Linked DNA regions of Homo sapiens: region 2 is linked to region 1. Evidence: fine-mapped expression QTL. A gene starts in region 1. The other region holds a variant in brackets. All regions are shown on one strand. Distances are between the middles of the regions.

Region 1 (2,500 bases):
TCTCGCCCTGGCCCAGGTACCCAAGACCCCAATTCTGTCGGAGACAACCGCAATTAACAACTTCTTGTGCATCTTATCAGACAGCTGGCGCGCACACCCGCAGATACGCCCACCCTCAGGCGTCCTTCTACGCAAAGATGGATAGCACCCATCAACGCTGTTTTTTCTTTTTTTAGACGGAGTCTCGCTCTGTCGCCCAGGCTGGAGTGCAGCGGCGCGATCTCGGCTCACTGCAAGCTCCACCTCCCGAGTTCATGCCATTCTCCTGCCTCAGCCTCCAGAGTAGCTGGGACTACAGGCGCCCACCACCACGCCCGGCTGATTTTTTTGTATTTTTAGTAGAGATGAGGTTTCACCAAGTTAGCCAGGATGGTCTCGATCTCCTGACCTCGTGATCCGCCCGCCTCGGCCTCCCAAAGTGCTGGGATTACAGACGTGAGCCACCGCAACCGGCCCAACGCTGTTTTTACTGTTGTTTCCTTTTTTAACCTAAGGTATCTTAGAAGTCACCCTACATTAGTGCATATTAAACATTGTTCGTCTTAATGGCTGCACAGTATTCCACTGTATGGATTATTTTTTAATTTGGTTGCCGGTACTGTTATCAGCCAGGGAATTTGCGAGGACCCAGCGGGATTTATGGAGCTGCAGAGTTGGAGTCTGGGGACCCAATTCCAACCCCAGATCTGTCCAGAATTCTGTTGTCTCGGGTATCATCTCCACCGGCGCGGTCGTGGGAGGGGGATTTGGGTGCAGACAGGACCAGCCCCAGTGTCCGAGCGAGAATCAGCGAGCAGCACGCGCAGTTGATTCCCGCGGGCGGCTCAATCATTCTGTGCAGCCACTCCGTTATACTTAGTAGCATCAAACTCATTAAGCACTCTAGCACAACCAAGCTCGGAACCGTTAGCCGACCCTCCCAGCCTCGGCACCTGACCTTGGGGAAGTGGCGCTCCGACACAGCTACTCACCCTCACCTGGGCCGCTTCACCCCTCGTTCCCAAGTACACCCCGTAGGTTGCAGCAGTCCCTGTCCCTTTAAGGGGGCCGAGCCCGGCTCCGCTACTTCCGCCCCGAAGCAGCAGGGCGCTAGCGCGGAGGCGAGAGCGGGAGAAAGCGCCGCTAGAATTCTCCTCATAAAGATGGCGACGCCCTGGCCGCCGCGTTCGCGCCCGGCGGTGACGTCACTTCCGGGGCGGAGGAGGCTGAGTGGTGCAGTGAGGGACAAACAAAAGGAGGCGCCGGAGCAGCGCTGCGGCCGGCGGCGGGACGGAGCGGCCGGGGCCTGGGGCTGCCTGCCGGGCGGCCGGGCGCGGCGAGCCCAGGTGAGTGGACGGGGTGGGGAAAGGGGCGCGAGCTGTCACCTCTCGAAACCCACTTACACACGCCCTCGGCCAGCTGCCCGGCCCGGGGCGCCCGGGGCATCTGGGGCTCTGTCTCCGGGCCGGCCCCCTGGGGACCTCCCGCGGTGTTCGGCCTACCTCTGGGCTCCCCAGTGCCCGGAGTCTCCGGGGCACCACCTTCTCGCCGGCTCCGCGGCGCGCGAGCCCCCTCCCAGGCACCCCTGTGCCTCCTTGTGCTTCAGAAACCAGGAGTTTCCGCCTCGGCTCCCCCATGTCCCCTTGTCATCCCCTGGGTCCCCCCAGATCCTCACCCCTCCACACACACTCTCCCGTTCCTAGAGGTTCCACCTCTGGGCTCTCTCCTTGCCATTTCTTTTTCAAAGATTTCCTTAGCTGTCTTCTCCTGAGTTCCTGGTCCCCTTCTCTTCCCTTGCACCCCTCCTTCCTATCGTTCCGATGGGGGCAGTGCCCTGACTTGGGGGCAGGATCCCCGGCTAGGCTCTTGGGGCCTTTCTGGGATGGGATATTTGGGAAGACCGGTCCGGAATCTAAGAACCCAGACCCTGTCCCAGTCCTGTGCATTCAGGTGGGCCCGAGGGCGAGGCGAGATCCAGTGAGGTCCAGGCCTGGTGCAGCCCTAGGTGAGCTGGATACCCAGCAAACTGAGCTCCCAGGCTGAAGGGGCATAGCTGGGGTCATGGAGTTCATGATGATTCTGCTGCTTTCGCTGACTGCTTCTTCCCCTTGATCTGGACCGGGGTGAACCGAGGTCTGCCGGTTCTCAGCTGTTGCGATTGTTGCCTTTTTTGGGAAGGAGGGATGGGTCGGGGGTTGTCTGGTAGCCGCCTCCTGATGGAGACTTGGCTGGAAGGGTGGGCGGTTCCTGGGTGAGCCACACTTCCACTGACTCCTCTTCCCCTGCCCTACCTCAGGAAGCCTTTTGAGAATGAGGTGTGGAGGGAGAGCACCTGGTAAGAGGAAGGGAACTGGGGGAGCCCGAAGTTCCCAAGGACCTCTTCCACCTCTTCTGTTAGTAGTACTCTTAACCCCTGCCAAACTGTATTCTGCCCTTTGGAGCAGACAACCTGGCAGACAGACAGGCTGTAAGAAGCGGGAGGAGATCGGCTGTTGCTGATACTTCCTGTGGAGGGGATGTG
Region 2 (3,009 bases), 49 kb before region 1:
TGGACCATGTGATTGGGCTCAAAGTCTAGTCCCTCACACCTCCATGGAGGCAGAGATGGAGGGGGCCCGATGGGCTAAAAGTTCTGACCCCGTAATCGTACAGTGCAGAGGGATTCCATGTGACTAACAAGACATGCCTATCTTCCAGAAACTCCAAGGATTTTAGGAATTCTTTACTAAGGACCAGGGGCAAACACCAAATATGTATTTTATTATATGATATATTCCTATCAGCTCCCCCAGTTAAACATATGATATGAGCCAAACCCATGCGCTTGCTATGCAAATGCAACTTCAAGACCAGGCCCCTAACACCACCTTCCAAAGAAATTCAGGAGCTACTATTGCTATCCAGTGAGACTCAATCGGGGCCAGCTAGAAGGCCTGGGCACACCACTTCACCTCACCTCCAGAGTGCTTTCCTCTCTTGTGAACTGGAGATAACTCAGGTCTCAGTCTCAGAGGGTTGTGTAAGATGATGTGCGTCTGAGTGCCTCGCAGGTAGGGCTTGCACGATCAACATTCAGTCCTCCTCCTGAGAATTATTTAAGTCCCTGGTCCTCCTGGCCCCCACTGTGCTGTTCTCTCACCCCTGTGGGAATGTCCATGTCTTCCTTGTCACGAACCCCAATCCTCTCCACACACACACACACACACAAACACATATGACACCCCCACCCCAGCCACCACACCCAGCACCAATAACTGCTACCATCAGATTAATATGAGAGGCCAGCTATGGTGGCTCACGTCTGTAATCCCAGCACTTTGGGAGGCCGAGGCGAGCAGATGACCTGAGGTCAGGAGTTTGAGTCCAGCCCAGCCAACATGGTGAAACCCCATCTCTACAAAAACACAAAAATTAGCCGGGCGTGGTGGCAGGTGCCTGTAGTCCCAGCTACTCAGGAGGCTGAGGCAGGAGAATTGCTTGAACCCAGGAGGTGGAGGTTGCAATGAGCCAAGATCATGCCACTGCACTCCAGCCTGGGGGACAGAGCGAGACTCTGTTTCAAAAACAACAACAACAACAACAACAACAACAACAACAACAACAAAGATTAATAGTGAGGAATTCATTTGAGGGCCTTGGGTGCTAGGCCTGGTTGTGCCACTATGTGACTACAGTAACCATTTGTACAAAGTTGTGGGGGTGTCTGAGGTTCTTCTGGGCATTCTTCACAAGTTAGATCAGCCATCAGCATGAGTGTGAAGCAGAGAGAAGCCGTCAATAAGGATCTTAATAACTTAAACATTTTATTATGGACGAAAAGGAGAGGCTTGAGGACTCAAGCCTAAAGGCAACTCCCCAAGGCCAAGATGAGCCAGGGAAGGTGAGGTTATACCTGAGCCTTAGCAGGG[G/T]CCATGCAGAGCTGGGATGTGATCGGTACATGGTGGAAGTCTACCGTCCGTCTCAGCCAAGCCTGGAGAGACCAGAAGCAACACAAGACCCTACAAACCCACCTATGGAGGGGCAGGGAGAGGCCCAGGTCAGGCCACCCTCACCTTTCAGACAGGAGGCACTTGGTTCTCTAAGATGAAGAAGGGCGGCTCCCACCCAGAACATTCTGTGTCACGGAGAAGAGGTTTCCCAATAGCATCTTCCCCAACCTAGAAATGTCTGAAACCTGGACAAAGACAGACACTCAAAGAGGATCTCTGCGGGCATGTGGGGATGTCAGGGCCAAGGCGTGACTTCAGGGCTAGAGTTCCACCTTCCACTTCCGCAGCTTCTCGTCCATGGCCTGGAGCGTGGCTTCATCCTGCGCCAGCACAGATTAGTCCTACACTCTCCCCATGTGCCCAGCCGGCCTTGGGAAGCTCTGTGAGGTCTTTCCTCCCCCAGCCCTGCCCTTTACCTTCACAAAACAGAAGCGGATATAGTGGTCAAAGTGCTTCTGATGTGGCACACTATAGAAGATGGAGACAGGGATGGCCACCAAGCCCTGGGGAGGAGGAAGGACATGTCTCAACACGGCCTCGTGGCCCAGCAGGCCTTGGCTCCGGAGGGGACAGAGAGGTTCCCACGACCAGGCGGGGAAGGAGAGTTAGCTCCAATCCAGCACCTAGAGCTGCATCAAAGTCAGAGGAACAAGGCCAGGTGCGGTGGCTCACGCCTATAATCCCAGCACTTTGGGAGGCTGAGACGGGTGGATCACCTGAGGTCAGGAGTTCAAGACCAGCCTGGCCAACATGGCTAAACCCCGTCTCTACCAAAAATACAAAAATTGGCCGGGTGTGGTGGCGCATGCCTGTAATCCCAGCTACTTGGGAGGCTGAGGCAGGAGAATTGCTTGAACCCGGGGGTGGAGGTTGCAGTGAGCCAGATTGCGCCACTTCACCGCAGCCTGGGCGAAAGAGAGAAAATCCATCCAAAACAAAAACAAACACAAAGTCAGAAGAAAAGAATCCCAGAACATCATTCCAAGTCCCTCCCTGGGTATAGAGGGCAGAGGGAGGCTGACAGAGGGAGGATCATGGAGCAGGTCAGGGCAGAGCCAGAGAAGAACAAAGCCTTAGAGTCACAGATCAAACCTGGATGAACTCAAGAGTTAATGGGCCAACTCCTCACTGTACAGATGGGAAGATGGAGATCCAAAGAGGCAGGAAATCCTGCCAGCCCACACAGCATCTCTGTGCAAGTTAGAAACAGGTTCCTCAGGCCAGGCACGGTGGCTCACGCCTGTAATCCCAGCACTTTGGGAGGCCAAGGGGAGTGGATCATCTGAGGTCAGGAGTTGGAGACTAGCCTGACCAACATGGTGAAACCCCGTCTCTACTAAAAATACAAAAATTAGCCAGGCGTGGTTGTACATGCCTGTAATCCCAGTTACCCAACTACTCAGGAGGCTAAGGGAGGAGAATCGCTTGAACCCTGGAGGTGGAGGTTGCAGTGTGCTGAGATTGCGCCACTGCACTCCCACCTAGGCGACAGAGTGAGACTCTGTCTCAAAAAAAAAAAAAAAAAAAAAAAGGCCAGGAGCAGTGGCTCACGCCTGTAATCCCAGCACT

The links.
Region 2: its variant is fine-mapped to the expression of KYAT1 in whole blood (TOPMed, PIP above 0.99).

The regions. Positions count from the first base shown.
Region 1 is chr9:128,880,926-128,883,425 of GRCh38, forward strand. It overlaps KYAT1 (kynurenine aminotransferase 1), which reads right to left and starts at 1,025. Exons shown (of 13, transcript NM_004059.5): 1 at 972-1,025. KYAT1-SPOUT1 (KYAT1-SPOUT1 readthrough) reads right to left here and starts at 1,025. Exons shown (of 25, transcript NR_182311.1): 1 at 972-1,025. LRRC8A (leucine rich repeat containing 8 VRAC subunit A) reads left to right here and starts at 1,208. Exons shown (of 4, transcript NM_019594.4): 1 at 1,208-1,325. RefSeq lists an enhancer at 1,095-1,244 and a silencer at 1,275-1,554.
Region 2 is chr9:128,831,884-128,834,892 of GRCh38, forward strand. It overlaps KYAT1-SPOUT1 (KYAT1-SPOUT1 readthrough), which reads right to left. Exons shown (of 25, transcript NR_182311.1): 12 at 1,857-1,943; 13 at 1,344-1,760. KYAT1 (kynurenine aminotransferase 1) reads right to left here. Exons shown (of 13, transcript NM_004059.5): 12 at 1,857-1,943; 13 at 1,059-1,760. The coding sequence ends at 1,701. Among named protein-coding and RNA genes, the nearest start is that of SPOUT1, 3.6 kb to the left of the region's middle. The variant G/T (reference allele first, on the strand shown) is at 1,360.